2 linked regions of the Homo sapiens genome follow. The protein of the gene in region 2 purifies or fractionates together with the protein of the main gene of each other region. This does not show direct contact. Each region holds a gene or a part of one and is shown on either strand. Other genes may lie near its edges. The genes, in order: FDFT1 and STK32C.

The links.
Region 1: the proteins of STK32C (region 2) and FDFT1 purify together in Homo sapiens (affinity purification with mass spectrometry; 3 studies listed by BioGRID and IntAct, with this or other methods). This does not show direct contact.

The regions. Positions count from the first base shown.
Region 1 is NC_000008.11:11,826,414-11,842,911, forward strand, and holds the end of FDFT1 (squalene synthase), read left to right. Parts: intron 1-3,830; coding exon 3,831-4,007; intron 4,008-5,104; coding exon 5,105-5,257; intron 5,258-11,974; coding exon 11,975-12,196; 3' UTR 12,197-12,885; downstream 12,886-16,498. UniProt on the Homo sapiens protein: Catalyzes the condensation of 2 farnesyl pyrophosphate (FPP) moieties to form squalene. Proceeds in two distinct steps.
Region 2 is NC_000010.11:132,300,987-132,317,483, forward strand, and holds the start of STK32C (serine/threonine-protein kinase 32C), read right to left. Parts: upstream 6,965-16,497; 5' UTR 6,848-6,964; coding exon 6,586-6,847; intron 6,237-6,585; exon of another isoform or gene 5,936-6,236; intron 1-5,935.

The sequences.
Region 1 (16,498 bases), on a different chromosome or scaffold from region 2:
AGTATATTCAAGCCTTGCTGTCCTTGATTTCTTTCAGACGGTCTTTCTCCAAGTGGTGGATATGGTAACAACCCATGTGCACTAGCTTAACAAAAAGTTCTTAGGAATGGCTTTGTTCGGCCTGGCGCAGTGGCTCATGCCTGTAATCCCAACAGTTTGAGAGGCCAAGGTGGGCGGATCACCTGAGGCCAGGAGTTCGAGACCAGCCTGGCCAACATCGTGAAACCCCGTGTTTACTAAAAAATACAAAAATTAGCCGGGCGTGGTGGCAAGGGCTTGTAATCCCAGCTACCTGGGAGGCTGAGGCAGGAGAATCGCTTGAACCCAGGAAGCAGAGATTGCGGTGAGCTCAGATTGTGCCACTGCACTCCAGCCTGGGCGACAGAGTGAGACTCCCTCTCAAAAGAAGAGGAAGGGCTTGGTTCTTCTGCTCAGCCCTGAATCAGTTACTGTTGCTACACAGCTGAGTTCTCTGGCCTCGCCTGGATTACGTCTACACAGTACACACAGAATGGATTTCCCCCAAAGAAAGAATTCTGCAGCAGGAAGGGGAAAGGGATGGCAGGTAGACAAAAACTCCAGGTGTCTGTAATAAGGGACAGGGTCGATCTTTAATTAAAACATGGACAGGGAACAGAAAGCTTTTGATACTGATTTTGTTCAGAAGGAAAGTAGAAAATTTTATGACTGTTCCCTGAATTTATTCCAGCATTTACCTTTTGCTTTCCATAAAAGTGTTTCCTGCAGCCAAGTACTTTAAAGTTTTAAAAAGACGGGTGAGGCTAAGTGTGGTGTCTCATACTTATAATCCCAGTGCTGAGGCCAGGAGTTCAAGACCAGCCTGAGCAACACAGCAAGATACCATCTCTATAAAAAATTGTTAGAAAATGATTCTGCTGAAAGAGCAAAAATAAAAATTAAAGAAAGTAGAAAAAATAAAACTAAATTTAAAAGATTAACTGGGCATGTTGGCATGCACCTGTATTCCTAGGTATTCGGGAGGCTAAGGCACAAGGATCCCTTGAGCGCAGGAGCTCAAGGTTGGATTGAGTTGTAATCACACCACTGCACTCCAGCCTCGGTGGCAGAATGAAACTGTCTCAAGAAAAAAAAAAAGTGACAGAGGGAAACAATATTTGCAATTCATAGAGCAGATACAGGGTTCATATTCCTAATATTAAAAAAAACTTCTAAAAGTTAAGAAAAAGGCCAACTGCCCCACAGAAAAATGGGCAAGGAGATAAGAACAAGATAGTTCACAGGAAGAGACACACAGATGATTATTAAAAATCTGAAAAGATGCTGAGTCTTACTCCTAAGAAAAATTCACATTTAAACTACTCTGGGGGCTGGGCAAGGTGGCTCACGCCTGTAATCTCAACACTGGGAGACCAAGGTAGGAAGATCACTGAAGCCAGGATATCGAGACCAGCCTGGACAACGTAGTGAGACCTTATCTCTTAAAACAAAACAAAACAAAACAAAACAAAAAAAACAGTAAAAATTGGCCGGGCACAGTGACTCCTGCCTATAATCCCAGCACTTTGGGAAGCCCAGGTGAGTGGATCACTTGAGGTCAGGTGTTTGAGAACAGCCTGGCCAACATGGCAAAACTCCGTCTCTACTAAAATTACAAAAATTAGCCAAGTGTGGTGGCATACGCTGGTAGGGCCAGCTACTTGGGAGGCTGATGTGAGACTCCATTTAAAAAAAAAAAATCAAAAATTAGCTGGGTATAGTGGCACACCCCTATAGTTCTCGCTCCTTGGGAGGTTGAGGCAGGAGGATTGCCTGAGCCCAGGAGTTCAAGGCTGCAGTGAACCATGATCGCACCACTGCATTCTAGCAGCCTGGGAGACAGAGCAAAACCCTTGTCTCAAAACAAACAAACAACAACAAAAAAACAAAAAACACTTCCCTCAGCTCAGACATGGCCTTTTAAGTTTCCTAGGTGACTCGTGTGCAGCCAGGGTTGAGAAACCACTCTTGTCTTACCCCTCTTTTGCAGACACAGGGCTCAGAGAAGGGAAGGGGATTGTCTGGGGATGTATAGTGAGGCAGTGGCTGCCTTGGAAGTGGAGTCTCAGTCTCCCGGCTCCTAGGCCAGCCCCTGACCACTGTTCCATTGTCTCCCAGACAGAACATCAGCCACGGGCATGTGATGCATGAGCGTGAGCCACACCATCTTGCACACACAGGAGCAGAGCCCTGCTCTTCTCATTCACTTACTTTATCTGTAAAATAGCATCATTTCTACCACACGGTGGTGGTGTGAATAAAATGAGATGAACTTCTAGCATAGAGTGCTTAGTAAAGGTTCTGGACATTTCGTAGTAGTTGAATCATGCCAAATGTGGTCCTAGGTGATTGGCTTCTTTTGCTAGCATGTTTTCAGGGCTCCTCCATGCTGGGGCATTGCATCACTGCTTTATTCCTTTTTATCGCCTAGTATTATTCCACTGTGTGGATAGACCACATTTATCCATTCATCAGTTGAAGGATATTTGGGTTCTTCCCATTTTTTTTGGCTATGGTGAATAGTACTGTGTACATTTGCATATAAGTTTTTGTGTAGATGTGTGTTTTCCTTTTTCTTGGGTCTATGCTGAGAAGTGGAATTGCTGGTTCATACAGCAGCTCGAACCTTGTGAGGAGCTGCCAGACGCTTTTCCAAGGTCGCTCCACCATTTTACATTCCCGTCAGCAGTGTGAGAGTCCCAGTTTCACCAGCACTTGTTGTTATCTCTTTTTAACTGTATGTATATATACTTAACATTTTATTTATAATAAATGTACATAATAGAGAATTTGCCATTTTAACTATTTTTAAGTCTATTATTCAGTGGCATTAAGTACATTAATGATGTTATATAACCATCAACACTATGTTTCCAGAACTTTCGCTAGCTTCAGAGAATCCTCTAAATAATATCATTAAAAATCATCAAGCCGAATCCCACTGTTAGAATTAAAGGTTTTATTTCACTTTCAAGTTATCAGGATCCAGGGAGGTGTAATACACTTAGAGGATAGACTCAGCTCATTTCCCAGCTATGCCTTTCAGCAGCTTTCTTACCAGAGTAGGAATATAATGTTAGTCATTATTTAGAGGCCTGGCCATCTTGAGAAGGTTTACTGTTTAGTCTGCAGTACAATTATAACTGTTTTTGTATATTGGGTTATTTTTTTCAGAAGTAGGCCAGTAGCTCTAACAGGAGCCTCTTTAGCCTGAATTCGTCCAAGTAGTGCAGTGTTGCACTAGTTGTCCCTCGGGACATGCTCCCCAATACGTAACTCACTTCCAGGTTGCAACTGGACACTTACTGGTAGTCAGAAATAGCTATTGCATGGAGCTTAAAATGAACTTGATCTTCGTGAAAGATGAGTCTGCAGCTAAGAGACTTTACTGTATATCATAGTGTTTTTTTTTGTTTTGTTTTGTTTTTGTTTTTGTGACGGAGTCTCACTCTTTCACCCAGGCTGGAGTGCAATGGCGAGATCTTGACTCACTGCAACCTCCGCCCCCTAGGTTCAAGCAATTCTTCTGTCTCACCCTCCTGAGTAGCTGGGATTACAGGCGCCTGCCACCGTACCCGGCTAGTTTTTGTATTTTTAGTAGACACAGGGTTTCACCACCTTGGCCAGGCTGGTCTTGAACTCCTGACCTCGTGATCCACCCTCCTCGGCCTCCCAAAGTGCTGGGATTACAGGCGTGAGCCACGGCGCCCAGCCTGTATCATAGTTCTTATGCACAAAGACCCTTTAATATTGTTTGTAAATTCTCCCCTATGCACACGCTGACCTGTTCCTTAATCTTCTTATCTGTCTAGGTTTGGAGCAGGTATGTTAAGAAGTTAGGGGATTTTGCTAAGCCGGAGAATATTGACTTGGCCGTGCAGTGCCTGAATGAACTTATAACCAATGCACTGCACCACATCCCAGATGTCATCACCTACCTTTCGAGACTCAGAAACCAGAGTGTGTTTAACTTCTGTGCTATTCCACAGGTAGGGAAGGGGGCTCCTCTGGGTGGATACGGGGCTAAAGGGAGTGGGGTAGGAGTAAGGGTGGATTTTGCTGTGCTATATTCAAGGATATGATTCCTTAAAAAGACGATGACTCCAGTTTATTACGCTGGGAGTTTCATAGCACCCGCCTTTGCTTCCAGCCACCAAACTCAGCTCAGCCTTGAGGTTAAGCCTGCTCCTTTTCAGAACCTTCTTTCTGGATTTACTATTTTCTACAGCTATCCTAAACTAGTTAGGTTCTTTTCCTCACAGTTAAGTCAAGGTCTTTGGCTTAGATTTATGGGGAGTGCTGGGTAAAACCTGGGTGAAGCTGTTATCATTAAAAAGTCTTCATTAAGCACCTAATTACTGCTGTCCTTTTCCTAGACCCGGCATAAAAAGAACCTGGTCCGGTAGACCTAGCCTCTCAGTATGCTAGGAACTTACACTTTTTAGTTGCCTTTACCAAGTATTGCAGATACTACTGCAAATAAGTGAAGAAAGTAACAGCATTTAACTGATTTGGGAACTTGGTTTGATCTTGTTCTAATGACCAACTTCGAATGGTGGTTGAAAGTAAAATCTGTATCGCCGTCTTATGTTTCCATTTACCTAGAAATACTTTACCTTTGAGCACAGGAAATTAATCCCCTTCTGGTTGTTCTCCCCCTGGCATTGGTTTTAAATATATAATGATTATGTTTGTTGTAGGAAAAATAGAAAAACAACTACAATAGAAAATTCTTCCCATATATTATTTTGAAATACATATTTCCGATCCGATAATCCATTGCTCTAGCATGGAAAATGTTGGATTTACTTGTGTTTGCTTTTTCCAAATAAAATGGAACTTTTGTGGCTACATTATAGAATTGTTTTAGACTGCTTAATTCTGTGTGTTGTTGAGAAAGGGAGGAGTGGGGAAGGTAAAAATCTTGACATACTTTCTTCGTGGGTATTTTTTCTTGAGCGATTCCATCTTAGTTGATTAGCAGTTAGCAATTGCCCATTCAACAGAAGGTTTTCTTACCTTTTTGTGATAATGATAGCTAACGACATCATTTCTTCTTTTTTCCCTCTCTTCTTGTTGTCTCTAGGTGATGGCCATTGCCACTTTGGCTGCCTGTTATAATAACCAGCAGGTGTTCAAAGGGGCAGTGAAGATTCGGAAAGGGCAAGCAGTGACCCTGATGATGGATGCCACCAATATGCCAGCTGTCAAAGCCATCATATATCAGTATATGGAAGAGGTGGGTTTTTATTTAACTACTTGGATAATTTGTAGCTACTTTTATGATTTAGTAATGTCACTGTTTAACCAGGTTTGGATATTAGATGATCCTAACAATTCACTATCCTGTGGCCTAAAGAGACAGGAATTGATATCCTTTATAAGGAAAAAAGTCTATTCACAGGAGCCGAGCAGATTGCTCACTGCTGTGTAGTACCCTGGTGAGAGGAGATAAATGGAGCAAGGCTGTAGGTTGGAGCCCCTCAGTAGAATCATAGATTTTGAGCTGCAAGATGATGCAGGAGGCCAACCAAGCTTCTTGTTGCTGGTGAGGAATGTGAGGTTGAAGCTTGTCTGTGCTGATGCAGTGCGTGATTGAGTGGATCTCTGGCTCCCGTCCATGTGTCCTGACACCCAGTCTGGTACTTTCATTATGCCACAGGCCTCAATTGAAAAATCACAGTAGGGAATTTAGGCCAAGGAAAGCCATCAAGTTGCAATTATTTCCTAAATTTTCTTTGGAAAATTTCATTTCAAATACCAAAACCATCCTATAAAAAGAAAACTTACCTTCTTAGGTCAAATCTCTAATATTTGACTAGGTTCAAAAAGTTTATTTCTGGCCAGGCACAGTAGCTTACTCCTGAAATCCCAGCACTTTGGGAGACCAAGGTGGGAGGATCACTTGAGGCCAGGAATTCAAGACCAGCCCGGGCGACATAGCAAGACCCCATTTCTACAAAAAATTTAAAAATTGTCATGGTGGTGCACGCCTGTGGTCCCAGCTACTCAGGAGGCTGAGGCAGGTGGATCACATGAGCCTGAGAGGTCGAGGCTACAGTAAGCTGTGTGATTTCATCATTGCACTCTAGCCTGGGTGATAGAGTGAGACTTTGTCTCAAAAAAAAAAAAAAAAAAAAAAAAAGTCTTAGAGACCAGAAGTCTTTGTAATCTCTAATAATCTCTAGGCCCTAGAGCAGTGGTTTGTAAATGGAGGTGATTTGCTCCCCTCCCCCCAGAGGACATTGGACAATGTCTGGAGACATTTTTGATTGTCCTAACCGGCAGGAATCGGGTGCTACTGGCATCTGGTGAGTAGAGGCCCAGGATGATGCTGTGATCCTCAGGTGTGATCCTGTTGAGAATGAAACACTGTAGACTTTATGAAAACATACAAGACCCTCATCATTTTTCCTTTGCCTGAGCTCCCTCCCCAGAGGTTACCTCTGTTCATGGTTTTGTGCATCCGTCTAGTCCCCCTGTTACGCGTTTACAGGAATATGGTTTGCAACAGTGTTTTCATCTAAATAGAATTATACAAAATAGCGATTTCTGATTTCTCTTGCATATTGCACATTCTTCTTATACTTCCTCCCTACCTTTATCTGACACAGAAATGCTGTATGTCCAGAACTTCTATCAGAGGCACCTATGGAAGTCTAAGGGAAGACCACATCGCTTTTAAAAACCCTAAAATTTTGTAGTCACTAGATGAAAATATTCAGCCAGTGACCCAAAAAATTGCTACCAATGAGACTCTCCATTTTGCCATGTAGCCAGAACTTACTTTGATCTATGTGCCTGGGGTAGTGACCAAGTAGGTGGGTAGGAGTAATCTCAGGGAAACTTGAGGCCCCAGCCTCATGGCTAGGGTCATAATTTGAACCCAGGTCTGTCTGACATCAGAATCCATGATGTTAACCCCAATTCTAAGGGGTTCAACTACCCTTTCTAAATGGAATCCTGCTATATTAAGCACTATTTATTCATTTTATATAAACTAGAAACATTTTATGTAGTAAGTAGTTGAGAGTGTTTTGGTTTTGCAGTTTGATCACTAGTTTTAGAAACCAGTTTTTAAACACTTTGTGGCCAATTCCATTACTATATTAAAATTCAGATTTATTTGGTTTTTCCTTAACTATTGGGATTAAATCCTGGTTGTAATTCATAGTTTGAGGGCGAGGGTGGGCAGTCTACAGTTGGCTGAGCCCTGTTTTTGTGAATAAATGTTATCAGAACACAGCCACACCCATTTGCTTCTTTGTCTTCTGTGGCTGCTTTTGCAATGTGACGGCCGAGTTGAGGAGCTGCAACAGGCGATGACTTGTAAAGCTGAAAATATTTTTTGGCCCTTGAATAAGAGGTTTGCTGACTTCTGACTTAGGGTATCAGTTGTTCTGTTATCCCAGTAAAACTCAAGGCATTAGGGGAGAAATGTTAATATTAATACTTAAGTTGATTTGATTTAGGGAAATCTTTGAAGATTTCTAAGTCTTAAGCAGTAGAACCTGTTAATGGTTTTAGTTTCAGCAGTAAGGACATTTTACAAGTAAAGTTTTAAATGAAAACATTTTGTATGAAGCCACAAGTCGTCTGGCCTCTTGCTGGTGTCCAGATATTAACACTGATCCTATTTCTCCTTGCTGACCAAGTCTGTCCTTTGTAGTAAGAAAGGAAGAAACGTTGACTCTGTCCGATCTCTGGACTTAGTGTTGTAGCGAGCATGCACCTGGAAGGGACTTGCCAGAGGACCTCCTCATGCTTCTCCAGTGCTTAGTGGGGGCTTGGAGTGCAGCCCCAGGTCTTCACGAGCAGTTGGCCACACTGCAGGGCCCTCACCCCACTCTGGAGCAGCCTCTGCTTCAAACCAGCCTGGATGCTTGTCAGCTGGGGAGAAGATCAACCTGCTATTTTGGGATAGAAATAAATGCTCAGCCAAACGGCCAGAAACCCCCATTCCCCTCTCTGCCAAAGTGAATTCCTTGGCAGGGAGAATCTTGTTCGTGTCTCTGCACACTTCCTGTGCCCTCCTGTGGTTAAGTCAGAGAATCATCCGGCTCTTTGAGCCCCAGGTGCCTAGCTGCTCAAGGATGGTCCCCAGCCAGCAGCTGCCAGGAATCACCTGGGAGCCCATTAAGACATCCAGCCCCCACCCAAACGTATCGAATCAGAATCTGCCTTTTTTTCCCAAATGATGTTTTTGCTTTAATGGAAGTTTAGATGTTCATAGACAAGAGTTTTAAATGATGATCAAGCTGATTCCATATTCGCAGTTGTAAGTAGAACTGCTGAGACGTGGAAGTACCACATGGACTCACAGAGGAGCTGCTGTATGTAGCACAGCATTGCACAAGAGCTTATTTCAGTCTAGTAAACATTTATAGGAGCCTGTGTCATTTAATCATCAAGCCTCGCACTGTGGCTCACACCTGTAATCCCAAAACTTTGGGAGGCTGAGGCAGGCAGATCACTTGAGGTAAGGAGTTCGAGACCAGCCTGGCCAATATGGCAAAACCCTGTCTCTACTAAAAATACAACATTTAGCCAGGTGTGGTGGTGCACACTTGTCATCCCAGCTATTCCGGAGCCTGAGACATGAGCATCGCTTGAACTCGGGAGGTGGAGGTTGTAGTGAGCTGAGATGGCACCACTGCACTCCAGCCTGGGCAACAGGGTGAAGGCCCTTTCTCAAACCCCTCAAGTATTTGGCTTCAACTTTATGCCGGGCATGTAGATGAAAAGTCGGCTATGACCTGTCCTTGACAAGCAGATGTAACTCCTTGATTGAGGCTAGTAGGTTTTTAAGACCTGAATAATTGAGTTTGCAGAAACCTACTGTGTGCCTTCAGGTAAATGGAGAGTGGGGTTTGGTCTAGCAACGAAGCATCTAGAAGGTCCCTTTGGCCTTACCGGCTCTGTTTTAGGTAAGTCCACGTCTGAGTACCAGTGACTGCAGCTCTTCCAGTTGTGCTGTCATGCTTATATGTTAGAAATGATCATCAAAGGACTCAAAAGTTTTGCCACTAATTGTATTACCGGGGACTGTCACAACCAAGATTTCTCTTAATTTATTCACCTTACTTATCTCCTGGAAGGGCATATTGAAGTGCTCTTGGAGTTCTCTAAAAGGGTTTTTGTTGGTTGTGTATATTCACTTGGGTGCCAGCGATTGATTCCAAATAAGTAAATCTTTTTTCCCAAAAGGATGTAAGATGGCTTATGGTTATAAGTACAACAGGCTAACAAAGTACAAGTAGATGAGAAAGTAAAATGAAGAAATAAAGTCATAGGAGCCACAGAATTAACCCAGGAATGAATAAGTGTGTAGTTTGGTGCTGATGTTATCATCCTTTATTTGTACATTGCTTGTACAGTTGCTCTGAGAAGGTAAGTCTTAAATTTTCAAAAGTGAAATGTCACCGAGCATGGTGGCTGATGCCTCTAATCTCAGCACTTTGGGAGGCTGAGGCAGGCGGATCACTTGAGGTCAGGAGTGCGAAACCAGCCTGACTTATGTGATGAAACCCTGTCTCTACTAAAAAAAAAAAAAAAAAAAAAAAATACAAAAGTTAGTTGGGCATGGTGGCAGGTGCCTGTAATCCCACCTACTTGGGAGGCTGAGGCAGGAGAATCGCATGAACCTGGGAAGTGGAGGCTGCAGTGAGCCAAGATTGCACCACTGCACTCTAGCCTGGGTGACAGAGCGAGACACCATCTTAAAAAAAAAAAAAAATCTACAATATACCAAAACCATTACTTACCTGAGAAACTATTCTCAGGGTCATTGTAGTGAATGCCTATTTTATGGCTTTTGATGGCATCAGGGCACTCAGGTCATTTACAAGAGTAGTGTGTGAGACCCTGTGTGTCACTGCCACTCATCTTGGCCTTCGGCCACTGCTGTAGCAACCAGTTTCCAAGTAGGGCTGGACCTTGCCTTCTGCTCCAGAGACCTCTCGCTTCCTGCCCTTGGGCTTCTGACGAGCTGCAGGAACTGCCTGGCACGTGGGTCCCCACAACCCAGAGGAGGTGAGGGCCACCTCTCTGCTCCTCAGGGCCACCTTTCATAAGGCTCCTTGAAGGTCCCTCAAGATCAAGCCAACTCAACACATCCTTGATAGGCCTTCCTGCCTTCTGTTTCACTTCTCCACTCGTTTCCAAATAAATGGCTGCATGCAAGCTTTTGCCTCAGGTTCTGCTTTTAGGAGGAAGGCTAAGACAAGCAGTAAAGCAACATGGGCAGGCAGAAGGATGACTTCTAATAGAATTATCTCATCACTATATATTTTACTTTATGGATGCTTGTATTGAAAAGTCTTGGCTGGGTGGAGTGGCTCACGCCTGTAATCCCAGCCCTTTGGGAGGCCGAGGTGGGTGGATCACTTGAGGTCTGGAGTTTGAGACCAGCCTGACCAACACTGGTAAAACCTTGTCTCTATTAAAAATGCAAAAATTAGCCAGGGATGCACGCTTGCTGTGTGCCAGCACAGGGCTAGGCTGGAGATAAAAAGGTGAGTAAGTAGGTGCGGTGTAGTCAGGGTGAAAACTACAGATGGTCCATTTCCACGTAAGTGGAAAGGTAAAGGTATGTACAATAGGGTGGCTCCTGGCTGAACCTGGAGCTGCAGACAGGTTTTCTAGAAGGCATAATCCTGAAGTTGAGACTTGGGGGCCTAGGTAGGAGCCAGTTGAAGGGACGTGGGAGGCGCATTCCAGAGAGAAGGAGTGGTATGAGACTGGAACAGAGGTGTGCAGCAGCATCGCATGGGCGAAACAACAGTAGACAGTTGTTCTTTTGTTTTTGTTTGTTTTTTGAGACAGGGTCTTGTTCTGTCATCCAGGCTGGAGTGCAGTGGCATGATCTCGGATCACTGCAACCTCCACCTCCCAGGCTCAAGTGATCTTCCCACCCCAGTCCCCAAGTAGCTGGGGGACCACAGGTGCATGCCACGATGCCCGGCTAATTTTTGTACATTTTGTAGAAACAGGGTTTTACTGTGTTGTCCAGGCTGGTCTTAAACGCCTGAGCTTAAGCAGTCTACGTGCCTCAGCCTCCTGAAGTGCTGGGATTCCAAACATGAGCCACTGTGCCTGGCCCGGCAACTGTTACTAGACTGTAGAGAGGGAGGTGGGCAAGGGCTGGTGACACTAGACAGGTGCAGTAGGTCTGGACCATGGGTGGCCTTGCGCTACACATTACAGAGCTCAGGCTTTTTTTCTCCAGGTGAGAGGGCTGGTGCCACTGAGGCATCAAGCAGAGGTTTGAGATCTCCTTGGTGACAGTGTAGAGCAGACAGGTAGATTTGGGAATTTAAGCTTAGACTCACGTTGGAGACTGAGATAGCTCATCTGAGAGGCACTCAGGGCCTAATCTCAGGCAGTAATTTTAGGGATGTAGGGGAAGAGATGGATTCTGCACATACTTGGGAGGCTTGTGGAGGAGTGGGGAGGGAGGCACAGGGAGGACTCCAGGGTGGTTCATACGGCTCCCTGCTTCTGTTCCTGTCCCCCTTTGTCAAGCTGTGGTCTGTACTGCGTGTTCCATCTTGTTTCTAAGCTGCTTTTGCCCAGTCTTTCCAGCATTTCCCTTTCGTCATGTTAGTCTGTGCCTGTCTACGTGAACTATGGTGACGTTTATTGGGCCTGGCACTGTGAGGTGCTGGGGATGTGAAGATCATTGTGGCTCAGCCGCTGCTCTCGAGGGCCTCTGGGTGCAGTATGCACACCTGTGCCTCCTGTTTGCTCAGGAAGACAGGCTTTGAGATGAGCTGGGGCTGACATCCCCACCTTATCATTGGGATGGCTTTGGGTAAGTTATGTTCATGTTCTCTGAGCCTCCCTTTCCTCATTGGTAAAATGGGTATAAAATACCTGCCAGTGGAGGGTTGTTGTAAGTAGCCATGGAAAATGTAAAGCACATAGCACTTATCATTTTTTCCTGTGTCTTTAACAGATTTATCATAGAATCCCCGACTCAGACCCATCTTCTAGCAAAACAAGGCAGATCATCTCCACCATCCGGACGCAGAATCTTCCCAACTGTCAGCTGATTTCCCGAAGCCACTACTCCCCCATCTACCTGTCGTTTGTCATGCTTTTGGCTGCCCTGAGCTGGCAGTACCTGACCACTCTCTCCCAGGTAACAGAAGACTATGTTCAGACTGGAGAACACTGATCCCAAATTTGTCCATAGCTGAAGTCCACCATAAAGTGGATTTACTTTTTTTCTTTAAGGATGGATGTTGTGTTCTCTTTATTTTTTTCCTACTACTTTAATCCCTAAAAGAACGCTGTGTGGCTGGGACCTTTAGGAAAGTGAAATGCAGGTGAGAAGAACCTAAACATGAAAGGAAAGGGTGCCTCATCCCAGCAACCTGTCCTTGTGGGTGATGATCACTGTGCTGCTTGTGGCTCATGGCAGAGCATTCAGTGCCACGGTTTAGGTGAAGTCGCTGCATATGTGACTGTCATGAGATCCTACTTAGTATGATCCTGGCTAGAATGATAATTAAAAGTATTTAATTTGAAGCACCATTTGAATGTTCGTAATAGTAGAAAATGATGTGAATTTTCTTTCTGTTCGGCTCCTATTTTTCTCATCATTTTGTTTTCTTTAATTGGGTTGAATGGAGTAGATAGAAATATTTATGGTTTAGGTAACAGTTAGATGTTTCCTAAGAATGCAAACTGCCTTTTCCACACAAAGGCTGGGAATAAAATTCTGGGTATTCTCGTATTCTCATTTAAAGGAGTTTAGCTTTCAGAGAGAAACAGCAGGATTGCTTTTGACCTTTTAGAAGATTGGTCTCCAGTAAAGGTGGACATTTTTGAGATTTTTATAATAAAGAATTTAATTGCTCTGCATTTGTCAAGTACAGTTCGCTTGAAAGCCTGCCTGACTGTGGAAAAGATGGAGCTCAAGAATGGAGTTGATGGCCCAGCGTGGTGGCTCATGCCTGTAATCCCAGCACTTTGGGAGGCTGAGGCGGTCGGATCACGACATTAGGGGATCGAGACCATCCTGGCTAACACGGTGAAACCCCGTCTCTACTAAAAAAAAAAAAAATTAGCCAGGCGTGGTGGCGGGTGCCTGTAGTTCCAGCTACTCGGGAGGCTGAGGCAGGAGAATGGCTTAAACCCGGGAGGCGGAGCTTGCAGTGAGCTCAGATCGCGCCACTGCACTCCAGTCTGGGCAACAGAGCGAGACTCCATCTCAAAAAAAGGAAAAAATTGTAAAAAAAAAAAAAAAAAAAAAAAAAAAAAAAAAAAAAAAATTTCCCCCAGCAGTTTTTGTTTTCTAAAGTTATCAGTTTATATATTCAGGTCTTAAGAAAGGCAAAAGCTGTCTTCAGGTGATTGGCTTGGGGGCAGAACAGTACTTCTGCTCGGGGTTTCACCTTCCTCTCTACTCCAGTGCAGCAGAGCTTGTGATGTGCTCTCACTGAGGTGCTCAGTGCAGCAAGGAGGCCTGTGGACCCTCGAGTTGAGAATTGGTGTACTAGGGCATTCGGTACTTTCTAGAAGCCATTAATGCTACAGGTACTCATAAAGTCTACTCTTCTGCAGCCCATCGTGGATGGTGGCTTAATCATTGAATTTGAGTTGTTTCGAGCTGCAGCGTTGGATTTGCATTGTTGTAAGCACACTTTCTTGCTGTGACCACTGACACCAAAATTAGTTTGGGCCCAGGGAGACTTCAGTTAATTGGTTCATTTGAGGCTTAGCCCTGGACTCATTTGTCACCAGCCAAGATAACTTGCCACATGGAATACAGCCAGACCAGGGGTCCCCGACCCCCAGGCCTAGGACCGGCACTAAACCTTCTGTTACGTGGCCTGTTAGGAACCGGGCATCACAGCAGGAGGTGAGCGGCGGGTGAGTGAACATTATCACGTGAGCTCCACTCGGCGTTAGATTCTCATAGGTGCGATTGCGCGTGTGAGGGATCTGGGTTGCATGCTCCTTGTGAGAATCTAGTCCCTGATGATCTGAGGTGGCAGTTTCATCCCAAAACCATTTTCCTCCCTCTGTCCTTGGGAAAATTGTCTTTATGAAACCGGTCCCTGGTGCCAAAAAGCTTGGGGACCACTGAGCTAGACTCGACAGTATTTTCCAAGGAATTAAAGCCTCAAAACTTGGTTTGAGATTTCAGGGTAGGTTGTTAAAAATCTGTGTGTTGAAATCTAAGATTTAATTCTGCCAAAGTTCACGTTAAGACAGAACAACCTGCTGGAAAGAGATTTGGTCTGAGTGGGGCCTGTGGAAATCTTCTTTCCTGACTTGGTCATTACCTGTGGGACCACTTCCTGAGCTGTGTGGTTTGGGTGATCTCAGATTTTTTCTATCTATAAAGCTATGTGCTTTTTTCTACTCACTGAGTTGTAGAAAGGTATCCGCTCTCATTCCATTCTGAAGCTCTTTGAAAGCTTGTTTTCCTTCTAAGTATCTTCTCTACTAAGGTTGCCAGATATAATAGGGGATGCTGGGCATGGCGGCTCACACCTGTGGTCTCAGCTACTCGGAGGGTGTTGGGGCTGAGGCAGGAGGATCCCTTGAGCTCAAGAGGTTGAGGCAGAGGTTGTGGTGAGCCAAGATCACGCCATTGCACTCCAGCCTGGGCGACAGAGTGAGACTCTGTCTCAAAAAACAAACAAACTTGCATAACTGAAAATTCAGAAGTAGTTGGCCATCTTGTATTTCTGTTTGGTAACTCTGGCAACACTACCCTCTACTCCCCACTTCTAATATAATTTTATAGCATCTCTGGCATACAGTCTATTTGGATCCGACCTAATGGTGCAATATTTTGTTTTCCTCAGAGGAGCCTCTGACCCATGTGAATCTAGGACCATAAACAATTAGAATGCTTGGGAGCAAGAGCTTTATATCTGCATATGGGAACTTCCGGATCCCTGTGGGCAAGTGCAGGGAGGGCCCCTTCTTCCATCTACTGAGCCATTTCCCAGGGGCTCGGGTGTGTATAGGAGGAAGAGGGCGAGTCAGGCATGTTAACAAACATTCTAGGTTATTCTTGGCAGTTTTGGAAACAGTTCTAAGGCTGTGGTTCTCAGACTTTATATCAGAATTGCCTGATTGCTGGGAACAGAGACTGATACAGTAGGTCTGATGGGGTGCCCAAGAGGTTGCATTCCTAAATTCTCATGCAGTTTTCTAATCAGGGAGCAGCTGGAAAGGTATTGTGAGCTTGAATGTACCTGGGAAACTACCTGGGGTCTTGGGAGATGCAAATGCTGGTTCAGAGGTCTGGCCCTCTGACACTCTGATGAGCATTTCTAACAGGCTCTCAGGTGACGGCCGTGCTCCTGGTCTGTGGACCACTTCAGTATGGCTGAAGCACAATAAAAGAGGGCAAATTACTGCTTTCTTTAAAAAGAGTGGCAGCCGGGCACAGTGGCTCACGCCTATAATCCTAGCACTTTGGGAGGCCAAGGCAGGTGGATCACTTGAAGTCAGGAGTTCCAGACCAGCCTGGCCAACATGGTGAAACTCTATCTCTACTAAAAATATAAACATTAGGCCAGGTGTGGTGGCAGGTGCCTGTAATCCCAGCTACTCGGGAGGCTGAGGCAGGAGAATCCCTTGAACCCAGGAGGCGGAGGCTGCAGTGAGCCAAGATCATGCCACTGCACTCCAGCCTGGGTGACAGAGAGAGACTCCCATCTCAAAATTTTTTTTTTTAAATGCAGAGGTTGGACTGCCTACCTATACTCTAATTTCTATTCTGGAGTGATTCTCTGGAGAGGCTAGGTAAAGACTGAAAAGGCATTGTTACGTCCACCTGTCATCTCACTTGGACAAGAATCCAGGAGAAACTATTGAACTGAGGTGACAAAGTTATGATCAATGTGGTGATCTGAGGTGTATTAAAACACTGAGCTCTTTCCCAGTCACAAACACTGCAAGGCAGGTGTTTCTAACAAAGCCTTAAGCTGATGTCGACATGCCCCACAATTCCTTGTCACTCACCAGCACATCCCCGCTGGCTCCATGCTAGAAGCAGGCAAGGAGCTGCAGGTGCGTATACGATGGAGGTGAGGGAGACAGTGCGCATGGAATGAATCAACTCAGTTTGGGAGCAGGGAGAACTTTATTGAGGTTATGAATATATTCTACTTGAAACTGGAAGGATAAGTGGTTATGAATTTGTGGCTTATGGTAACCTTTGTTAAGCATCTTTCTTTTTCTTTTTTTTTTTGGTGAGACACAGATTCACTCTTGTCCCCCAGGCTGGAGTGCAATGGCGTGATCTCGGCTCACTGCATCCTCTGCCTCCCAGGTTCAAGCGATTCTCGTACCTCAGCCTCCCGAGTAGCTGGGATTACAGGCATGTGCCAGCATGCTTGGCTAATTTTGTATTTTTAGTAGAGATGGGGTTTCACCGTGTTGCCAAGGCTGATCTCAAAACTCCTGACCTCAGGTGATCTGCCCGCCTCAGCCTCCCAAAGTGCTGGGATTA
Region 2 (16,497 bases):
TCTGGCTGGGAAGGGAAATGACACCAAGTAGAAGGCCTGGTCGTCCACTAACGTGAGCCCAGATTCAGCTCTGAGCTTCCCAACACCAAGTAGAAGGCCTGGTCGTCCACTAACACGAGGTCCGATTCAACTCCAAGCTTCCTAACGCCCAGTAGAAGGCCTGGTCCTCCATTAATATGAGCCCAGAATCAGCTCTGAGCTTCCCAACACCAAGTAGAAGGCCTGGTCCCCCACTAACGTGAACCCAGATTCAGCTCCGAGCTTCCCGACACCAAGTAGAAGGCCTGGTCCTCCACTAATGTGAACCCAGATGCAGCTCCGAGCTTCCCAACCAGGAAGAGACAGGGTCAGGGCCACAGGGCACAGGCCCTTACTTGATGTAAGAGCCGAGGGGCTCAAGAGGAAGTCTGGGAAGCTGCTCTGAGTGGTCCTGCAGGGCCTGGCCTGGAACCCGGGTTCCTCCCTAGGAGGGTCCTGCCTGACACAGCTGGGAGCGCCCGTTAGGTGTGGGGGTCCCCGGGGAAGACAAGGCCCCGCAGTGGGCTCGGGGACACAGGATGCTCCGCCCAAAAGCACGGGGCCACACTCCCCAGGAACCCGCCAGTGGACACACCAGACTACCCTGCCTCAGATCCGGGTCAGAAGACAGATGCCGCATCCCAGTGTAAAGGAAACAGTGCGGGCTACTGGGCCGGGTGAAAATGCAAGATGTGAACCAGGAGCTGCACGTCGGCCACGTGTGGAGAAGGCTGGGCCTTCAAGAGGACTGAGAGGAACAGAAGGAGGAAAAGCAAATTAAAAGTCCACACCGCGAGGCGCCCTCTGATGACTGGCAACCCCGTGGTACAGAGGGTTAGAGATCCCCCTCCAGGCCCATCGGGAGCCCGGGCCAAGGGACCAGCACCCCGTGGGTTTCCTGCCCTCACTCACCATGATGCACCGGCTATATACTCACTAAACTCTCACACTCAAAGTATGTCCGCGGGCCAGCAGCGCTGGCACCGCCTGGGGCCGGCTGGAAATGTGGGCTCCTGGCCCCACCCCAGGCCGGCTGGGTCAGCCGCATTTTCACAAGTCCTGGGTGACTGGGGGTCCGGGACAGGCAGGAAAGCTGCTCTGAGTGGTCCCGGCTCCGTGTGGAAGAAACACTTGTCTGTGACTTTGCCTCCCTCAGATCACCTTGGAGTGTCTCTGGGCTTCACCCGCAGAGAATCAATCCCTCAACAAAATCACCTCCAAGGCATCCTCGCATTACTTCTCCACTGGAAAGCTGGGTGGTTCAAGTTCTAAAAGAAAAGCCGGCTTATTTTTAGCCTTGTAAAATGCACAACCAGATGGATAGACACGCAGAGCTGACATTTGTTACATAAAAAGTATGACAGTAGGTCCCGAGTCCATTCTAGAGCAGCCTCACAGCTGGGAAGGAGAAGAGGCATCAAGCTGCACAGCTGCCCCAAGGGCCCCCAGGACACCCGGTGCTGGGCCCAGAACCGGGGAAGCCAGGAGCAAACATGTGACGGGGTGCCCGGCAGGAGGCCAGGACCATAGGCCTCCTCCCCAGTCCACACCCCAGACCAGGGGCCTCTGCAGCCACCAGGCTTCTGACCACCAAGCGCCTGCACTGTGGGGGATGGGTGTCTGGGCCACACAGAGAGCCCCCACCCCTTGCCTCACAGGGTCAGGAGGCAAGGAAAGAGCACCCTCCAAAATGCGAGTCCACACCTGACTGGAAAGTTTTCCCACACTAGGGCTAAGCTGACGCTCTGGAAGGACAACCCGTCCATACCAACCGTGCGGGAGGAGCTGTCCCCAGCCCTCGGCAGCCCCTGGGCTCAGGACCTTCTCTCTTCTCTGCTCCATGAGCTCCGGCAACACCATAAGGAAAGAACGAGGCAAAACCATCACGGGGCCACTAGAGTCACTCCAAGGCAACGTGACAGACCACCCAGAAAGCCAACAAAATGAACTTCAAAGCTATAGACTAACGAGAATTTAGCCAAGTGCAGTCATGTGCAAGAGGCAGCGAAGTCTCAGCCACACACAAGGTGAACCTTGTAAAAGTGGAGCGTTCCTTCACATCAGCAGCAGCCAGCGTGGAAACGGTCCCACTCCAGTCCCACAGGCCGGGAGCAGCAAGGGCGCAGCCTGCCTGGGGCTCTGCGGTGAGGGGCTGCGTGGGAGGCCTCAGATCCCTACAGGGGGAAACATCCTAACTGCACTCATCCTGGGAAAGAGGAGAACTAATGCGAGAAGGAGAGAGCTTTCTCACTCTCCGTCAAGCGATACTCCCTACGGGCTGCAATTTCCAACGCAAAAAGTGAAACCACAGAAGCGCTAGAAGAAAGTACAGATGCAGGTTTATGAATTAAATTATTATTAACTGTGCTGGGAAGGACTGCTGTCACATAAAGGCAAGGCCGGACGCAGCCACAAAGGCAGATGATGAATCTGACCACACACAAATTAAACACATCCATAGAGAAAAAAGCTAAGTAGCAACATTAAAAGATAAATGAGGAACGTGGGAGGGAAGCTGCTGAAGGCTCAGCCTGTGTACCAGGAAGGGCGAGAGGAACCTGCGGCTGCCATCCCACAGGACACATGCCGCTAACAAGCGCGGGCAGGCAATTCAAAAAGTGTGGAAACACGTGAAATGTGTTTAGAGCTGAATGCTCTAAACATTTAAGGTAAAAAGATGATGAACCTCATTGATAATCAAAGAAACTCAAAGCATGAGTGCCATCTTTTAATCTCTTAGACTGGCAAAGAATAGAAACATTGCTGATACCCAAAGCTGGAGAGGATTCAGGGGAAAAGGCGATCAAACCCTCCCGCTCCTGGAGCAAGTGAAAATGGGTTTTCCCTTCCCGCCAGCTCCGCTGGCAGCAGGTGGTCTGGTTCTCTCCCCTGCAGGTGCCTCCCGCCACCCACTGCACTCGCTCCTGCCTCCCTGTCTTGTCAGTCTCTCTGCTTCCCCTCTGCCCGGTTACCCCACGACAGCATGGCCCATAAACAATGCTCAGAGAGGGACCAATTGAGCGGCCACACGTGTTAAGGTATTTCACACGGACCCCTTTGCCTGAGCAATGTCGTTCCTAAAAATGTATCCTAGGGAAACAATGCCAAGTGCACAAAGATCTGCAACGATGTTCATCAATACGTCGTTTATGATATTTATAAAACAGAAACACCTCACAGTCCTGTGACAGGAAACTAAGTAAGCAGAGAAAGTCACAGCTGCTCAGGGGAGCACTGCAGAGTCGGGAATCTCAGCCTCGACTGCTGGTAAAACTCAAGAGGGGCTTAAAAAAAAAGCCTGAGCCCCTGAGCCCCACCCCCAACCCACCAAACCCCCCCAGTTCACCCACAGTTCACGGGTGTGGGGCTTGAGCATCTGCATTTTTTAAGAGTGCCCAGTGAATGACTCGGGTCCACAGCCTGGGGCTGAGAACTGTTGTAAATTCAGCCAACAAATGATGCCTCAGGTCTGGAAGAGGCTGGCAACATATCGCTGAATCAACAAGCACCTTACGGCAAATTGGCATGCAGAGCAGGATCCCACTTCTGCTAACAAAGAGAGAGTGTTTCTCCACGGCTGTACCTGGGACTGTATTTCCAGAAAAAGGCTGGGAGGTGACACCGTGATCCCAATGCTGAAGTTACAGATACCGTGGCATAAAGTATAGAATGTTTTTAAATGCATACATTTTAATGCTTTCATAATTAGGAAAAAACAAAGGTGTTTCTAATTTTAAGAGATGACTTGAGGAGTCTGGTGGCCCCTGGTCCTGCCTCACTGCCTGCCCGGCCCGGCGCCCAGGGCGGGCCGTCCACAGCCTGCAAGGGCCTGTCCACTCCAGCCTTCCCCAGATGAAGGCAAAGCCCCTCAGGGAGGAGCTACTTCCTGCTGGCGGGCTAATGCCACGTCAGGCTGGAGACTCAATGCTGTGACCCCGAGACGGGCGAGCGCCCCCCAGGTTGCAGAGCTGCTTAGCGGGAAGGTACCGGAGCCTCCTCTCAGGTTCACTTGGTATCACCAGGACACCAAGACAGAGAGGAATGAAGGGGCTCGCCCAACGCCATGCAGCTCTGGTGCAGAGCAGCAGCAGAAAGACCCCCTAACCAAGTTCAACCCCAAAAATGAATTTTTCACCGAAGTCAGAGAAGGGATAGAATGGGAGCATGTGAGGGGCTGAGGGGAAGGAAAACTGGAGACCCTCAGTTCTGGCATGACAAAGACGTGCAGAGAATTCTGTACATGCACCAAATATCTGCCAAATTAGGAAAATGGTTCTGGAGTCCACAAGGATTAAAAGGAACAGAGGACATTTAGTCTTATATGTCGCAACTATGCCTATCAGTTGAAATTTACCTGGCACTTTGTTAAACAGCACTCTTAATTTCTTTTTTCCTTTTCTCTGCATACTAAATTTGATATATTAATTAGGTGTTTTAATCTAAAAAATTCATCGGAAGGTCTAGCATTGCCATAGCAACCGTGCAGATTCAGTAAACTCGAGACACCAACACAGCACCAGGGCCTCCTTAAGCCAGTGCTGCCACGGGGCCACGAAAGTACCAGGCAAATGACTGCACCAACCTGAAAGGGGTGGGACTCAGGGGCAACAGTCCCTTCCTAAAAGACTCTCCTTTCTCCTTCCAAACTGAATCCCTTCCACCAACACGAGTCCCCGGCATCCACACTCAGAGGTGCAGAACATTCTTCTGCAAACCCTGTGCTATGACTCCCAAGTTGTCTGTGCCCTGCCAGTGACAGGAAGAAGCGGAGGGAAGCGGTCACCGCCCAGAGATGTCCTCTGCTATTCGGGCCAGGGCCTAGTCTTGCCCTCCTGATTTCACCACACAAAGCCCAGCTGAGTCCCGGCGGGTGCTCAGTTTGGGGATGTGGCTGCATACCAAGCCATACGGAGCCAGCAGCATCCGTGGGACACCGTCAGCCGAATCTCTGCCGTCCTACTACAGGCAAATACGGTGATGCTGGGGATGTGAAAGAATTCCCAAGTCAGACCGTGAGCCCCACAGACAGACTCTGTGCTTGCTCTTTTTGCCTTTCTAGTGATCCTTGAATTCTGTGACATAACACACTGTGAACACACAGGGAAGTCTACCCTACAAAGCTGAAGGCAGCCCAGTGCCACACCACTGTCTCCACTCCCACCCCCGGAGAGCACGGTGCCGAGACCCAGAAGAGCAGCCAGCTCTTGGCTGACACCAGCAAGTGCTAAACCAGATGCGTTTCTCAGACGTTCTCTCAACCCGCAGCCAGAAACGAGAGGCAAATCTGCCTCCTGATCAGCTCCTAGTTCACTCTGGGCTTTCTTTACTTTGAATATTTATGTTAAAAACAAAAACATTTCTCAAACATTCACCATCGTGAGTTCTGCTGTCCCGAAGTTCAGGACACAGTGACGGGCCACCCTGGAGCGTGTGGGGCCTGGTGTGGCTGGGCCTTCAGCCCTCCTTCTAGGCAGCACACCATGAATCCCCGGTGCCGTCTCCCGGAGGAACGGCGGTGCACGGCCCCACACTCACCAACGCCGGCCTGAGGTCGTATTACTGTAATTTCCCATAATGCTTAAATTATTTATCGCAAGTAAATAGCCTGGCTCCTGAGCGCTGGGCTCTAAAATTTTGAAGGATCCATCATACCTCTGCACGCTATCTATAAATGAAAAATGCACATTTCAAGTATTTTAAGAAAATGTCAAAAAACATGAAATGTGTCATCAATGTACGATTTTAAATGATTTGCATGTTACCTGTAGAAAAGAGCTGTATGTCTGCATGTGACTGTATTACAGTGCCCACAGGCAGACGCGGCACCACATCTCCCTGCAGGTGATAATTCGGGGGTCCCCGGGGCCCCCTGGCACCCCGGGAGGTGTCCCTGCAGGCCTGTCCCATGTCACCTCACCTGCCTTCTCTGCTTTCTATGGCGCCCACGGCTGCACGGTCACTCAGGAGACACCAGTCCCCGGGGTTGGCGGCTTTATCTACAGGACTCAGCAGCGCACTCGTTCCTGGCAGGGCAGGTCTTTGCACAACGGCCTGGCCCTGCCTCCAGCGCACATGGGTGAGCAGAGGATGGACACCGCGCGGTCACCAAGGAGACTGAGCCTCTGAGCGGCCGGGCCCCGCCACCTGTGGGGCAGGAGCCTCACTCGCACTCGGGCGGCACAGGTGAGCGCCTCTCTAACTGCAAAGTACAAACGAGCCCGCACGTGGGCCCGAGCGGATCACGGAAAGCGGAAAGCAGGGCTGCCACGGGCGGTGGGCGGAGGCGCGCGCAAGCCCGGAGACGCCACAGCCGCGGGGGACCCTCGCCCCGAGGGCCCGGGCCCAGCCTGCTCCTCCTGCGGCGCCGCCACTAGAAACGGAGGACGCGGGCGGGCGCCCAGAACTCGCGTGGGGCCGCAGCCACCCGGCGCGAGCTTCTCCGGAAGCCGGGGCGCCCCGGGAAGCCGTCCCGGACACCGGGGGAACCCCTGCGGGAAAAAGCCGCCCAGCCGCGCCCGCCCCTGCAATAGCGCGCGGCCCCCACGTCGTCCCCGTGCCCGCACTCACCGTCCTCCTTGTCGTCAAACACCGGCCTCCGCGCGGTGGCCGCCGACATGGACGAGCCCATCCTCTTCTTCCACTTGCTCCACTGAAACAGGGGGCGCGGCTGCGAGCGGACATCGCCCGAGTCCCGGGCCCGGGGCTGGCCAGCAGCGGGCGGCGGCAGGGCCGAGGGCGCGTCGGAGCCGGCGGGGCGCGCGCGGCCGGGGGGCGGCGAGCCCGGGGACGCCGCGGCGCTGCTGCCCCTGCGCTCGGCGCCACTCCTCATCGCCGGGTCTGGGTGCGCGCGGCAGCCGGAACTCGGGGCATGGCCGGCCGGCAGGGCCGGGAGCGGCAGTGGTAGCGGGAGCGCTCGGGGCCGGCAGCGCCCGCCGTGCGCTCTTCTGGGCGGTGGAACCCGCCCCGTAGATTGCGAGCGCTGGGGGCGGGGCAGGGGCGGGGCTTCTGGAAGGGGCGGGGGCGGGGCGGAGCTCCTGGAAGGGGTCGAGGCGGAGCTGAGCGCCGGGGCGTGGCAGGTGCGGAGCTTCGGGAAGGGTAGGGGCGGGGCCGAGCCGGGGGCGGGGCAGGGGCGGGGCTAGTGCCTGGAGTGTCGCTAGGGAGTGGGTGGCCGCCACCAGTCTAGGGATGGGGGCTGTGGTTCGCCGGGACACGGGGACCACGGCTCAGACTAGACGGCGGGTACGAGAGCGAGGGAGGCAGGGAGCGTCCCCACGGGTATCCTGGGGCCCCGGAGGTCGGCGTCCCTGGCACGGGGACTGCTGTGCCCGGCACGGCGGCGGGACCTTCTCGCGGTCTCCGGGGGCCTCCCTCCCCTGCCTTCTTCGTGAAAACAGCCGGCGCGCGGGCTTCCGCCGCCCAGTGCGGGGAGCCCTAAACTCCAGCCTTCTGCTTTGCGCAGGGTGAGGCCGGGCTGCAGGCCCGGGATGCGGGCGGCGGGAATCTGCCGGGCAGAGCCCGGCTCACGGTCAGGAGGCGGCAGGCTGAGTCCAAGCGCTGCGCCAGAGGGTGGGGTGGGGCAGGGCGGGCCTGGCTGCGCGCGCGCACACGCGGGCGCCTGGGGTGGGCGCTAAGCCCTGAGCACGTGCGCCCGCGCTCTCGGGCACCCCCGTGCCATCCTCGCGACCCCCGTCCGGCCTGAGACCGCGTGCCCGAGTCGCCCAGGGTCCCCTTGTCCAGATGCGACAGGGGCCTCGGCACTCGGCGTATTTCGGAGGCCTGGGGCGCGGCTTGACCTCCGGGCACCTCTGCCCCTGCGCAGGGCCAGGCGCGACCTTGCGCGGAAAGTGCTGGGCGCCTTGGAGTGCCCTGGAGAAGGCGCGGCTCTGCATGGAGCCTCGCCGCCTGCCCCTGGCGCTTGTCACTGAAGAATCAGTTTTTGCTACCGGGCTGTTTGACTTTAGGAAGCCTTTACCTCCTTAAGTTCTGCCCTGTAACCAGGACACAAAGACGGGGTCTCTTCCTCCTCGGTGAAATCCTAGATGGGATTTCCTGCTGCCCGCCCGGACGATGAGCGGATCCCCAACATGGCTCCAAGGCCAGTGTCTCCCGCTCCCGTCCCTCCCACCGCACACAACTGTCTACCCTGTCATTCAGCCACTGTGAGCCCTGCCTCCCCACGGCCTTTGACATTCAGTGTGGCCGCCCGCCCTAACCGCCTGATGCATGAAATGTGAGCACGGGAAGTCTGTGTGGCTTCTGGGCCAACAGGAGCCCCCATCCCTTGGGGACTATAAGGAATGGAACCATGCCCATCTACCTAGGACATGCACCCGCCTGGACATGCACCCGCCTGGACATGCACCCGCCTAGGACATGCACCCACCTGGACATGCACCCGCTTAGGACACATGGCATGCATTTCACTACTGAGATTTAGAGGGTATTTTTATGGCAGCATAACCTAGGTTACCTGACCAACCAGCCACCGCAGCTCTCCCTGCCTGGCTAGCACAAACGCATCGGTCTCTAACTTCCAGTGCACAGAGCCGAGTTTTCAGCCCTTGCAGCTGCGAAGCTCTGTTCCCTGCTCTCCCTCAAAGTTGCCATTCTCCAGCAGGCACGCAGAAGGCAGTGGGTTCAGCACCTGCCTCAGAGGAAGCCCTCGGTGCCCATCCCAGCAGGAGTGGTGAAGGAGCGTTTGGAAGGGGAGGTACCAAGGCAGGGCAGTGCCTGGAACCCTGCGTACCCGGTGCACACATCAGACTCCCCAGGGCTCCTCCCAAAACACGCAGCCTCTGAACTTACATCATCGCCTCTCCTCCTCTCCCTCTGACCCCTAAAAGTGGCAGAAAAGGAATAAAAGATATAACGTCCCCACCACCACCTAAGAGGGAACAGGAGAAGGGAAGACATGTTAATAGACTTCAGACAGCAGGTAGAAAGCTGACTCTGAAGATTGGAGAGGCTGAGGACCTGCAGGTAACCAGGACCCCAAAAGGCGGGAGAATGTGAATACAGCCAGAGCCCAGGACGCCTCCCCGGCCCGGGCAGTTGGGGATGGACAGTCCTCTGGTCTGAGGGTCCAAAGGGGCTCTTGACCTAGGGATACCAAGTCCTGCAGAAGACAAGAGTGCAGGGGGGCAGAGGGGTTCATGGGGACATCTGCACACTTAACTAGGAGACCCTCCAACCTCACCCTTGCTGTGAGCCTCAAACACCAAGCCAGGCACCTGCCTCTCAGTCAGGAAACAGGAAGGATCTGTAGGGAAACAGCAGCTCCCAAAAGAATGCCGGGTCCTAAGATTTGGCCAGTGCAGATCAGCCCTGGAGGGGCCTGTGGGCTCAGGGCACAACTCTTGTACTGTCCAGGTGCAACTCTTGTACTGTCCAGCCACGGCTCAGGGTCCAGGCAAACACAAGACTGAGCGTTAAGAGGTGCACAGTGTAGGCATGAGACAGGAGGGGTCAGGAACTGCTGTCCCCAAGAGGATGCCAACCCCTGGTGCCTCATGGGAGGTAGCTCTGAAGTTCTAGGGGGATGCTGGGAGGGACTGAGGCTGGGACAGAGTCAGCTGTGGATGGGAAGGGGCAGTGAGGCCAGTAGAGAATTCCTGAGTTCCCCTGTGTGCCCATGCTGCCCGGGAACGTCAACTTCATTAGGGCAGCGATGGTGTCTGCCCCTTCCAATGACAGGAGACCAAGTGACAATGTGACAGATAAATGCATTCAGTGCACTGACGTCTAGCACGCAGGAGCACACAGGAAGGCACATGGCTGGGCAGCACGTGCATGATCGTGGGACCACTTTAGCTTGGGTAGTCCAGCATGAGTCTCTGAGCAGGTGACCTTGATGCTGAGGCCGGAGCATGAACGAGTAGCCCAAGGGAGGCCAGGTGTCCGGGTTCCAACAGCAGGAGCTGGCCCTAAGGTAGAAACCGGCTTGTGCGGGAGGACAGGAGGGTCCATGCTGCAGGACAGCAAGTGAGTGGCCGTGGCATGTGCTGAAGGGCTGGGGGTGGTTTGGGGGACAAGGTGCAGTCCCTGACACCAGGCTTCATGTGCATTTGTTCATAATTCGTCCATAAAGCCACGCCTCCTGAGGGACATGCCTTGGACATGGGTCCTCCGTTGCCACATAATTGGCACACAGCTCAGTCACACCGAGATGTGTGCTTCATCTTCTGTCATCATTATGAAATTAACACATGCTCTGCCCACGCCTTTGTTAAGAGTCCTTTTATTAAATCTCCTCAGATCACACGATTCGTGTGTGCTGTTTCCTGCTGGAAAACACATCTCAGAACTGACCCCCAAAACAGGAAATGGGCTCCCATGGGACTCCGATGCTGGTGTCCACCTATGTGGAGAATCCACGGACAGCCTCCCTCCTGGGAAATGGAAGACAGATGGCCGTGGCGCCCTCAGATTCAGCCCTGGCGGGGCCTGGGACTGAGGATTCTTGGAAGGCCAGGGCCTTGGAGCCCACGTGTGGGGACACTTGGTTGCTATGGTGACAGTATTGATTTTAAAGGTCATGTGGCCACCTGGTGACTCAGGAAGGAGCACAGCGACGGAGAACATGCAGGACGGGCTGCAGCCACTAGGAAGGAGCCCTCGCCCCCACTGCAGTGCGCCGGGGCCGAGCATGAGTTCACCGCTCAGCTCTGCTTAAGGACCCACAACCCCAGCCCCTGCTGCCACCATCATCACGTTGCCTTTTCATCTGTCTACTCCGCCCTTTTCTTCCTCTATAAGGACACTTGTCATTGGACTTAGGGCCCACCCTACTCCAGGATGATATCATCTTGAGATCCTTAACTTAGTTACATCTGCAAAGATCCTCTTTCCAGATAAGGTCACATTCACAGGGCCGGCACGGACATGTCCTTTGGTGGCAAAAGGCCACCATTTAACCCACCACATCCATGGGCAGCATGGATTCACCACACCCTACAGCCCCAAAGTCCCAACCATTACAGCAGCAACTCTAAGTCCAAAATCCCAGCTCAAGATTTTTTTTGAGACAGAGTCTCACTGTGTTGCCCAGACTGGAGTGCAGTGGTGCTATCATGGCTCACTGCAGCCTCGACCTCCCAGGCTCAAGCGATCCTCCCATCTCAGGCTCCTGAGTAGCTCGGACCATAGATCCATGACCCCACCCCTGGCTGATTTTTTGTGCTTTTGGTAGAGACAAGGATTTCACACTGTGGCCTAGGCTGATCTCAAACTTTGGGGCTCAAGAAATCCACCCCACTCAGCCTCCTAAAGTGCTGGGATTACAGGTATGAGCCACTGCACCCAGCCTCTCGTCTAAATATTTTCAGCTCGAAAGTCTCCAAGACTCATTGTCTAAATCATGCCTGATTTAGACAATCAGAAATGATGTCCAAGACTCATTATCTAAATCAGGCATGGGTGAGACCTCAGTTCAATCCATTCTGGGCAAAATTCCCCTTTATCTGTGTAACTGTGAAACTGGAAAATATGCTTCCAAGGTACAGTGATGAGATAGGCATAAGATATACATTCCCATTTCAAAAGGGAGAAATAAGAAGGAATAAAAAGAGTCATCGGTCCCAAGTAAGTTCAAATCCAGCAGGGCAAGTTCCATGAGGTTTCAAGGCCTGGCAAGAATTCTTGGTGGCTCAATGCTGCACTACGTAAACTAAAATTAAAACCATAAGCCCCCAACCGATGGGACAGACCCGCTCTTGGCCAAGGAAACTCCAGAAAAACCTTAAAACTGAGTTCCAGGCCAGATGCAGTGGCTCATGCCTGTAGTCCCAACACTTTGGGAGGCCGAGGTGGGCGGCTCACTTGAGGTCAGGAGTTCGAGACCAGCCTGGCCAACATGGCAAAACTCTACCTCTACTAAAAATACAAAACTTAGCCAGGCGTGGTGGCACACGCCTGTAATACCAGCTACTCAGGAAGCTGAGGCATGAGAATCACCCGAACCTGTGAGGTGGAGATTGCTGTGAGCCGAGATCACGCCACTGCACTCCAGCCTGGGCGACAGAGCGAGACTCTGTCTCAAAAAATAAAATAAAATTAAATTAAAAACCTGAGTTCCTGGCTATGATGGTGGGATGGGAGGTCAGACGGGTCTCCTGATACCCCCTCCCTTTTACGGTTTAGACACAACAACCAACCAGCTTTAATGTTAAGCTGGAGACCATAAGACAAACGGAATGGCTCTTTGTGGCAATAAGATACCAAATTATAAACAGGACCTAAGGCCATGCCGAGTGACGGTTAAGTCACACACTCTACCCTTACAGCAGCTAACAAGCACTGGCCTTGAGATGAGCAACATTAAACGCCGTGGCTGTTTACCATCCACACAGAGGCAGCCTCTAAGGCTAAAAAGGACCCTTCCACACGGGCCACACGACAGACATTTGCCAAGCACCTGCTCCATGCTAGGCACTGCAGCAGACACTGCTGACATAGTGAATGGTCAGATGGAGCGTGCACCCCTCTCAGCGAGGGAGACGGGAACCCAGTGGATAGCAGGCAAAGAGGGGATGCACAGAGGGCTGCGAGAGCAGGAGTGGATGCCAGTCCTGACAGAGCATGAGGGACACCCCCTCGAGGCAGCCCACAGCAGAGCTGACACCTGACAGATGGGCAGACGTCAGCCAAAGGGGAGCAGGAGAGCAGCCCTCCGGGCAGAACATGGGTAGCGTCCAAGAGGTGAGCAAGAATGTGATGCTTTAGAAGAAAGGAATGAATGAAAGGCCAGGCTGGTTAAGCTGGAGAGATTGAGGCAGGGAGTGGCAAGAGACGAAGGCTAAGGAGATGACAAGGACCAGGTCAAGAGGCCTCATGAGCTCCGTGGAAGGTGCTAGCTCTGGCTTCCTGAAAGGCTGCTGAAATGGGGGTTGTTTAAGACCCATGCAGTGAACTTTGGCCAATGGAAAACCACTGCTGGGAGGATAAGCCACCTCTCCTTCCTCTTTCCCACAAGAGTTCGCAGGCAGAGTCTCTCTCCTGCCCATGTGAAGGCATCCTACCTGGCCAAGCAGGGCATCCATGGAGCAGCAGCCTCTGTCAGAACTCAGCCAGCCATAAGCCCTCGGCCAGCACCGCGATGCACCACCTTACCTGGGCCCCGCCCTTCTCTGCCCCTCTGCCCTTCTGCATCTATATAAAGGAGGGGCAAATCAATTTCATGTTGAAAGACAATTCATCGCTCATAGCAGAACTAATAACACTCTGCCTGATAGCATGTGCAGATGTAAAACTGCACAACTTACAAAGGGCAAAGAGATGATGACACTGCTGAGCTTTTCTGACATTCCCTGGAAGTGGTGTTTTACAGCTCAGGTTTGACTGTGACAGACTGAGGGTGGCTATCGTGATCCACAGCAATGCCTTTAAAAAGTGGCCCAGCTAACGAGCCAACAGAGGAGATACAATGTAACTAAAATCACCAGGAGAAGATGAAAACAACCCATGGGACACAAGGAAAATAAAGAGCAGAGTGGTAGAGTTCATCATTACAGTAAACGTAAATGGACTACGCACTTCAATTAGAAGATAGAGACCATCAGACTGGATACAAATGCAAGACCCTAATATGTATATGCTGATTCTAAAAGCTGCATCTTAAATATAAAGATGAATTATAACCTAAACACTAAAAAAGAATTTAAAAGTAAAAAGATGGAAAAAAGATATACCATGCAAATAATAATCATAAGAAAGGTGATGTAGCTATATTTATATCAGATAACGTAGACTTCAAGACAAAGAATATTATTAGAGATAAAAAGGAACATTTCAAATGATAAAAGGATCAATTATTTAAGAATACCTAACATGCAGCCATAAAAAAGATTGAGTTTGGCCAGGCGCAGTGGCTCATGCCTGTAATCCCAGCACTTTGGGAGGCCGAGGCAGGCAGATCCTGAGTTCAGGAGTTCAAGACCAGCCTGACCAACACGGAGAAACCCCATCTCTACTAAAAATCCAAAATTAGCCAGGCGTGGTGGCGCATGTCTGTAATCCCAGCTACTTGGGAGGCTGAGACAGGAGAATCATTCGAACCTAAGAGGCGGAAGTTGCGGTGAGCAGAGATTGCACCATTGCATTCCAGCCTGGGCAACAAGAGCGAAATTCCATCTCAAAAAAAAAAGAATAAGTTCATGTCCTTTGCAGGGACATGGATGAAGCTGGAATCCATCATTCTCAGCAAACTAACACAGGAACAGAAAACCAAACACCACATGTTCTCATTCATAAGTGGAAGCTGAACAATGAGAACACATGGACACAGGGAGGGGAACATCACACACTAAGGCCTGCTGGGGGTTTGGGGGCAAGGGGAGGGACAGCATTAGGACAAATACCTAATGCATGTGGGGCTTAAAACCTAGATGATGGGTTGATAGGTGCAGCAAACCAGCATGGCACATGTATAGCTATGTAACAAACCTGCACATTCTACACATGTATCCCAGAACTTAAAAGTAAAATAAATAAATAGATAGCACAAAAAAAGAATACCTAACAATCCCAAATATGTATGCGCCTAATAAGAAGACTTCAAACTATATAAAGCAAAACTTGACAACCGGAGAGAAAAATAGACAAACGCACAGTCATAGTAGTAGAGCTTAACACTTCCATCTCAGGAATTGCTAGAACAGGTACACACATACGCAATTACTAAGGATATAGAAGTTTGGGCAACACTCTTAAGCAAGTTGACCTGATCGACATCTATAGAACACAATAACCAATAACTGCATATTACACATTATTTTCAAGTGTGCAAGAAATATTAAATAGGATGTCATATCCTGAAACAAAATGAAAATTTTCAATAAATCTCAAAGGATTGAAATAATATATAATGTGTTATCTGAACACAATGAAATTAAGCATCAATTATAAAAGAGAGTCCAACATTTGGAAATTAAACAATAATCCATTATCAAATAATGAATCACAAGGAAATTTAAAAATATTCAAATGGAATGATTATAAAACCCAAACTAATAAAATGTATGAGATGCAGCTAGTTTTAAATGCCTGTATGAGAAAAATAAGAGATGTTAAAAATCAGTTTTCTAAGTTCTGTCTTAAGAAGCTAAAAAAACCATTCCACAATGTATACATATTCTGAAACATCTTGTTGCATGCCATAAGTATATATCATTTTTATTTGCCAATTAAAAAGAAAATAAATTGTAAAAAAAAATTTAAAAAATAAATTACATACCTTAAAAATCACTACTATAAGCCAATGTAGCAAAGATGGGAAGTTTTGTTCATGGGAGAAGAGAGTAAAGATGAGCTATAAAAAGTTAAAAAAATAAGGCCAGGCACGGTGACTCATACTTGTCACCCGAGCACTTTAGGAGGCTGAGGTGGGAGGATTGCTTGAGCCCAGAAGTCTACGACCAGCCTAGGCAACATAGTGAGACCCAGTCTCTACAAAAAATAAGGATAAAAAAATTAGCCAGGCATGGTGGCATGCACCTGTAGTCCCTGCTACTCGGGAGGCTAAGGCGGGAGGATCCCTTGAGACTGGGAGGTTGAGGCTACAGTGAACCATGGTCGTACCACTGCACTCCAGCTTGGGCAACAGAGTGAGATCCTGTCTAAAAGATCAGGAAAATCAGCAAAGCAAATCAGTGATCCTTTAAAAAGTCATTAAAATGTATAAAGCCCCAGGATTACAGAATAAGGAGAAAGAGGAATTAGAATATTAGAAATGAAGAAAAGGCTATCATTCTAGAATCTAAAGATACTTAAAAGAGTCCAGGCGCGGTGGCTTATGCCTGTAATCCCAGCAATTTGGGAGGCAAAGGCTGGTGGATCACAAGGTCAAGAGATTGAGACCATCTTGGCCAACATGATGAAACCCCGACTCTAAAACTACAAAAATTAGGAGAATCACTTGAACCTGGGCTGGGAGGCAGAGGTTGCAGTGAGTCAAGATCATGCCACTGCACTCCAGCCTGGGACAGAGTGAGACTCCATCTCAAAAAAAAAAAAAAAAAAGATACTTAAAAGATGAAGAAAGGCATGTTGTGAAAATGTAGTACCAGTACATTATATTTGTAACTCAGATAAAATGGAGAAACTATTTGAAAAATATAATTTATCTACAAGAGAAACTGAATTTGTAAGTTAAAACTCCTTCCCAAAGAAAACTGAAAGTACTGAGACAATTGAAAATTTATATGAGAACAATAAACCTAGACCCTTACATAAATAACTCAAACTGAATCAGAGGCCTAAATGTAGGAGCTAACACTATAAAATTTCTAGAAGAAAACACAGGGGAAAATCTCTATGACCTCTAGTTAGGCCAAGAGTTATTACATGTGACACCAAAAGCATGAATGAGGCATAAAATTCATTCATTGGTCTTCACTAAAGTTAAAAACTTTGGCACTCAAAAATACACAATTAAGAAAACAGACAAGGGGAAAGGTTGGAAGTCATCTTTCTGGTGTAGGACTT